2 linked regions of the Homo sapiens genome follow. The protein of the gene in region 2 interacts with the protein of the main gene of each other region in a pairwise test. Each region holds a gene or a part of one and is shown on either strand. Other genes may lie near its edges. The genes, in order: SERBP1 and ITFG1.

What was found.
Region 1: the proteins of ITFG1 (region 2) and SERBP1 interact in a two-hybrid assay, tested with the Homo sapiens proteins (one large-scale study listed by BioGRID and IntAct).

What each region holds. Positions count from the first base shown.
Region 1 is NC_000001.11:67,413,403-67,417,231, reverse strand, and holds part of SERBP1 (SERPINE1 mRNA-binding protein 1), read left to right. Parts: intron 1-1,892; coding exon 1,893-2,066; intron 2,067-3,829. UniProt on the Homo sapiens protein: Ribosome-binding protein that promotes ribosome hibernation, a process during which ribosomes are stabilized in an inactive state and preserved from proteasomal degradation.
Region 2 is NC_000016.10:47,153,846-47,157,347, reverse strand, and holds the end of ITFG1 (T-cell immunomodulatory protein isoform 1 precursor), read left to right. Parts: intron 1-1,569; coding exon 1,570-1,629; 3' UTR 1,630-2,957; downstream 2,958-3,502. UniProt on the Homo sapiens protein: Modulator of T-cell function. Has a protective effect in graft versus host disease model.

The sequences.
Region 1 (3,829 bases), on a different chromosome or scaffold from region 2:
TGCTGCCAAAGTGAGCACTCCCTCATACACTTTATTTTGAGACAAGGTCTTGCTCTGTCATGTAGGCTGGAATGCAGTAGCATGGTCACAGCTTACTGCAGCCTCAACCTCCCCGTGCTCAAGCGATCCTTCTAGCTCAGCCTCCTGAGTAGCTGGAACTACACACCTGTGCCAACTCCTGGACTCAAGCAGCCCTTCTGCCTATGCCTCCCAGAGTGCTGGGATTACAAGTGTCAGCCACCACACCTGGCCTACTTTTTATTGTTATATGGTTGGTTGGTTTTATTTTTTTCTGAATATTTTCGATCTGTGGTTTGCAATAAATTGAAAGCATTGGTTTGAAATAGCAAACATTTAAAAATCACACAATTAGTATATATAATTGATTCTAATTTGCTGGTGTTTTGTGAATTTGTTTTTATGTTTCTAGCCTCCTTTAAAATTTGTATTAGAACATTCTATTGCCTTACAGTGTGTTGGTTTGGTACAAAGGAGTGACATTTAATACTAGTATGAGTTGATGTAAGGGGTGAAAACATGGATAAAAACACAAAAATTTATTTGTACTTTAAAGGCTAGTTATTAACAGCTGTAATATTTTAAGTTGAGTCTAATGGAATTGTAATAGTACAAGTTCTAATGAAAGAACAAAATGTTCTTTATCCCTTTAGAAAAGAAGATTCCTTAGATGTATTTAGGAAAAGAGGAAAAGAAAGCTGTACTTTCAAGTCCTATAAGTACAGTTTTCAACTAGAAGATTAAAACCCATCCCAAGCGTACAAGAAGACATCAGGCATGAAGCAGTATAGAATTGTCTGGCTTTTTGCTTTTTTCCCCCAGACTGGGTCATGTATCTTAAACGCAAATAGAAAAGAGGATCTGGATTTCACAAACATGACTTCATTTTTAAGAAGTTTCTAGCTGGGCATGGTGGCTCATGCCTGTAGTCCCAGCACTTTGGAAGGCCAAGGCCAGCGGATCGCTTGAGCCTAGGAGTTTGAGACCAGCCTGAGCAACACTGTGAAAACCTGTCTATAAAAAATACAAAAAAATTAGCCAGGTGTCATGGCATGTGCCTATAGACCCAGCTACTTGGGAGGCTGAGGTGGGAGGATCGCTTGAGCCTGGGAGGTGGAGGTTGCAATGAACCCAGATCGTGCCACTGCACTCCAGCCTGGGTGACAGAGTGAGACCCTGTCTCAAAAAAAAAAAAAAAAAAAGGTTCCTGTGACACATTTAAGGTGTGGTTTTATTTGTGCATAGCTTTACAAGATTCCCCTCTTTATGTAAAGTGTGTAGTGTTTCACTTGAATTTGTAGCTCTCCAATTTGTGTAGAAAAACGTAGTGGTTGTGTATTAACAGAAAATGCTTCTGAGAAGTTTATATCTAGTAAGGTCTTTACCCTAGTTGTAGTTGGAAGAGTGTAGAACAGAGTTTTTCTTTCTGAGTGTTCTTTTTAACTTCAGTGTTAGTGCTAGTAGTAACCTTATATGTCATCTCTCCAGAGGTCTTCATCAAGGATTCACATGGCAGTCCTGATCTGAAGGGCATATTTAAAATGTACTTGTCCAGATTTCACTGCTAAAGATTATGATTCAGTAGGTCTAGGATGGGCTTCAGCCGTTTGGGTTGATTGTGATAGCATACATGTCTTTAGTTGAGGACTGCTGGTATTACCTGCAATTTTGAGATAGAGAAAAGTGCAGGAAAATCTTCCTCCAGGATCACTAAAGCTGAGCCCTAGCTTGTTACCTGTGGAGGCATTGAGACATTTGTTCACAGAAAGTACAGTTTGGATTTTTGGTTTTTTTTAGAAGAAAGCTCATTATTTAGAAATTTTGCAATGTTACTTTTCTACTAATAACACAATCATCTTCACTTATATTTTTAGGCTCATGCTGAAGATTCGGTTATGGACCATCATTTCCGGAAGCCAGCAAATGATATAACGTCTCAGCTGGAGATCAATTTTGGAGACCTTGGCCGCCCAGGACGTGGCGGCAGGGGAGGACGAGGTGGACGTGGGCGTGGTGGGCGCCCAAACCGTGGCAGCAGGACCGACAAGGTAATTTAAGACTTTCTTTTCCTTTTACATAATTTAAGGACCTCTTATAAGTCACTGGCTGGGTCAGACTTATGTCACTTTTGGGAACATAAGTAGAAGTAGTAGCAGTGTCTTTAAGAAACCGCATGTTAGGTTATATTTATGTTTAAAGCACTTAAATGCCTTTTTGTGTAGTGCTGTTAGTAGTGTTAAGTTACCACCCTTTTGAGTTCTTTCTAGGTGCCGGTCATGGTGCTGGGCTAGGCATTTTATGTACTTAATGTCATTTAATTCTTGTTACTGTGATGACATTCTCATTTTCCAGATGAGAAAATTCTGGTATAGTGAATCAGGTTAACTCTTGGCCTTTGCTAAGGCTTACCTGAAAACCAGTCTGTTCACTTTGATAATTCCTAACTGCTTTTTAGGTCTCCACTTAATAACCATTGTGTTCCTTGTATAATTCCTCTTACGACACTTAGGATTGTTGACACTTTTTTCTTTTACTAGACTCTTCTGTGAGAGCTGGGATTCATTTTTGGCTTACTTTCTATAATCTCTCCAATGCCTTGAACAGTATGTGGCACAAAACAAGTTCTTAGAGAAATATTTTGGTGAATTCCCAAGTAATTGATAGATTTGAACTCAGATCTGATGCTTGGAAACAACCATAATGTCCTCCTAAATTCTCAACACCTTACACACAAATTTGGGGACCCACCTACTTGATTGAGTCTGTTTTTGATGATTACAGGGGTAACTTACCATTGCCAGTGTAATGATACTTTGTTCCTCCCTCTAAGACCAACCTTTTTTTTTTAAGGTGGTGGTTGTGTTGATGGGCTTTTCCCATACTTTCTTTTTTAGTTCTGTTATTTATACTTTAGGCTATAAAGAGCAGTTTGGATTCCTTTTTTCAGACTTTCAACCTTGATGATTATTGCTACTTAGATATTAGTTCCTTAGCATGCTTTCACATTGGTGCCATTCTTATTTAGCAAGTGGAAAAAGTATAAGAATACTGAACAATGCGAATTCACATACATAATTGCTTATGAATCTACTTGTATGGTTTATTGGAAAAAGTAAAACAACTGGGCTGGGCGCACTGCCTCACGCCTGTAATCCCAGTACTTTGGGAGGTCTGGGTGAACAGATCACCTGAGGTTGGGAATTTGAGACCAGCCTGGCCAACGTTGTGAAACCCTGTCTCATTAGCCAGGTGTGGTGGCACATCCCTGTAACCTAGCTACTTGGGAGGCTGAGGCACAAGAATCACCTGAACCCAGGAGGTGGAGGTTGCAGTGAACTGAGATTATGTTACTGCACTCCATCCTGAGCAACAGAGTAAGACTGTCTCCAAAAAAAAAGAGAAAAAGAAAACAACCCATATTATTACTCTGGAATGAAAATAGGCCTTGGTAGAAATTTAGGACAGGGCTCATTGCAAATACTTGTAGTTTTTTTGTGATCCATAATTTTGTCTTGATACATTTTACCTAGAATTTTAACAGTAGGATTTTTTTTTTTTTTTTTTTGAGATGGAGTCTCACTCTGTTTCCCAGGCTGGAGTGCAGTGGCACAGTCTCGGCTCACTGCAACCCTTGCCTCCCAGGTTCAAGCGATTCTCCTGCCTCAGCCTCTTGAGTAGTGGGATCACAGGTGCCTGCCACCACACCCAGCTAATTGTTTATATTTTTAGTACAGACAGGATTTCACCATGTTGGCCAGGCTGGTCTCAAACTCCTGACCTCAGGTGATCCACCCACCTTGGCCTCCCAAAG
Region 2 (3,502 bases):
CAGGCTGGCTCCTTCTACCATTTTCTCAATGCAGGCTTTCCCCAGTGTCTGCCCCTGGCCCTCTTCTTTCAACACTTTCCCTGCCAATTTCATCTAAAATCATGGCTTCAGATATCCCCAGCTCTCATCTCTAAAGGTCCTTCCCCATTTCCAACTGTCACCATGATAGCTCAACCTAGATGACTTACAGCACCTCAAAACCAGCATTCTAAAGCTTCATCTCTCTTACTTAACCTACAAGATTTCATCACTTGCCTATGGACTCTGCCTCTGTAAGAAGTTCTACAGCTGACTCCACTTCTACATTCCTACTGCACTGCCCCTTCTTACATCCTACTTGGTCTCTTTCTTTCCGTTCTCTCCCCTTTCCATTCTCTCCCCTTTCCATTCCATTTAGCACACTGCTGCCAGTGATTCATTCTGTTTAGCCTTCATCATGTCACTCCCCTGCTGAAAAAGCTCTAGTGAATATCCATTGCCTTTTATGTATAAAATCCTTGGCCTGGCCTGCATATGACTTCCATGTGACTCCACAGTCGTATTTTTTACCAGTTGCTTTCACATATCCGTGCTCCTTCCAGCCTTCTCATGATTGATCATGTTGTAACCCCAGCTTGGAGTGAATACCACTCTCCCCATTTCCATACTTTCAAATGCTTTCCCTGTCTTTTCAAAGCTTTCCCTTTCCTCACCCGGATCTAGAAGTAGTCTCTTAGACTTGGTAACATTTTTCACTTTTTATCTTGAACTACAGTTATACAATATGTTTTGCATTTGTCTTTTTGGAGAACAAGATACAAAACGGAGGTTTTTTTAATATTAAAATAGCAAACACAGTATTGGTATTGGGAGTATTAGAAGCAAAGGGCCAATGAATATCTGCTAAATTGACAAGTTAATGAAAAAATAATTAGTACATTAGTACTCTGTCACCCAGGCTGGAGTGCAGTGGTGCAATCTTGACTCACCGCAACTTCCGCTCCTGGGTTCAAGCGATTCTCCTGCCTTAGCCTCCCAAGAAGCTGTGATTACAGGTGCCCACCACCACACTCAGCTAATTTTTGTATTTTTTTGGTAGAGACGGGGTTTCACCATGTTGGCCAGGCTGGTCTCGAATTCCTCACCTCAAGTTATCTGCCCTCCTTGGCCTCCCAAAATGCTGGGATTACAGGCATGAGCCACCACCACACCCAGCCATTAGATTTGTTTATTAACATCATTGTTAAAAATGACAGAAAAATGCAATCATTGATTCATCCTTATAGAATCTAATACTTATTCCTATTTTCAAGTAGATAATAAATGATAAGAAGCTAAGTATTTAAGGACCCTAAGTATTTAATGTGCCTTAAGTATTCAAGTATTTATTGTTTTTTAATCAATTAGATCATTAATTATAAAATAGCTACTATAAACTACAAAAATACTAGGACTGTTGAATTAGGAAATCATATCTATTATCTGCTAATTGCTGGAGACTTTTAAAAATGAATCACTGTGTATTTCAGAAATGAGTCTTTTCATAACATCTTTCTACCATTTATAAACGAGTCTAAAATTCTTTTTCAGAAAGCAGATGATAGAGAAAAACGACAAGAAGCCCACCGGTTTCATTTTGATGCTATGTGACTTGCCTTTAATATTACATAATGGAATGGCTGTTCACTTGATTAGTTGAAACACAAATTCTGGCTTGAAAAAATAGGGGAGATTAAATATTATTTATAAATGATGTATCCCATGGTAATTATTGGAAAGTATTCAAATAAATATGGTTTGAATATGTCACAAGGTCTTTTTTTTTAAAGCACTTTGTATATAAAAATTTGGGTTCTCTATTCTGTAGTGCTGTACATTTTTGTTCCTTTGTGGAATGTGTTGCATGTACTCCAGTGTTTGTGTATTTATAATCTTATTTGCATCATGATGATGGAAAAAGTTGTGTAAATAAAAATAATTAAATGAGCAGGAATTTTTGTGTCCACTTGACTTGGTCTTGCTTCTTATTCTAATGATGCAAATTATACTTTTGTGAATATATCACGGAGTCATTAGGCATTCAGCTTCATCACAGCAGGTCAGGGGTCTCACTGATGGCATACAATATAGTGATCGGGTACTCTGACTTGGTAGCACAGTAAGACAGACTTGCCTTAAACTCCTAATTCAACCACTTACAAAGTCATTGTTTGAACTTGGCTCTTGTTTAACCTCTGTAAACCTCAGTTTTCTTGTTTATTCAGTGGGGCTAATACTTGAGTTACTGTAAACATTAAATGGGATGATGTATGTGAAGTGCTTAGCTTGGTGCCTAGCACAGAGTAAGTGGTCAATATGTGGTAGTTGTCATTATTAATATTTTAGATGATCTTATTAGACTTATACATCTAATTATAGAAATACATAGACTTGATAGAATTTTATTTTCAGGCATGAAGAAATATTCTTTGGAAAAGCTAAATTTTTGGTGATTGACATAAAGATTTACTTGCTCATATTAACTAAAAATTATAGTACTCTCCAAGAATTAATGTGCCCTAAAAATTTTCCTCCAAAAACTTATCCTTATCATGTGATAATGAAGAACATTTGATTTCTTGAAAGGAAACTGCTGTAGGCAGCATCTGGGAATGCAAATCTTCAATCACATTTCTATTCTCAAACACTTGGAGAAGTCTATAATTTACATTCAGACTTCAATGCAAATTTTGTATTGTGAACTTCACATTTCCAAAAAGTTACTTTAAAAAGACTTTAAGACTGAAAAAAAAAAGTTTATCAATGCTAATAATTTTCTAGTATGCAAATGGACATGTGATGCCTATAAAACACAAAAATTTCTCTGAAAACAATTTTGTTCTTATTTTTTTCTTTATAGTTCACTGAGATTGGCATGTGTTTTTACTTTGTATCTAAGCATGTTAACATGTCTTCTTAATAAATATTCCTTATTGAAACAAAGTATTTCAGTGAGTTTTTAAATAATTATTTTAGAGCATGAAGAGACCTTAGAGCTTATGAAAGCATTTATCTGGACTGGGAGACCAGGGTAAGGTGACTTGCCCACTGCCTCTCTGTGGGTCACGGGCAAGATAGGATTCTCCTGACTGTAATACTCAGTTAAATTCACTAGTTATCAGCCCACAGCACTGTCCCAGGCACTACGTGACACTTTCTCAAAGATAATTGGGATCATTATTGATATAGCCTGAGTCTTCAAACTCATGTGAATCAGAGTTTACAAGACAAATAAAATGTTAATGACAATTAAAACTACAATCAGTGACATTAATACTGCTTCTGTATTTCCAAATGCAACTTTAATATCATTTATTAAGGGACAGCAGGTAAAAAATGTATCACAACATTGAGAATCACTAACAAAAACCTTTGTTTTGATTTTGAATATTGCAGTGGAAAGAGAGCAAGGCTTTGAAGTCAGACCAGTCTGGATTCAGGGCCCAGCTCCCCGATTTCATGACTCTGAATCAGTCACTTCTTT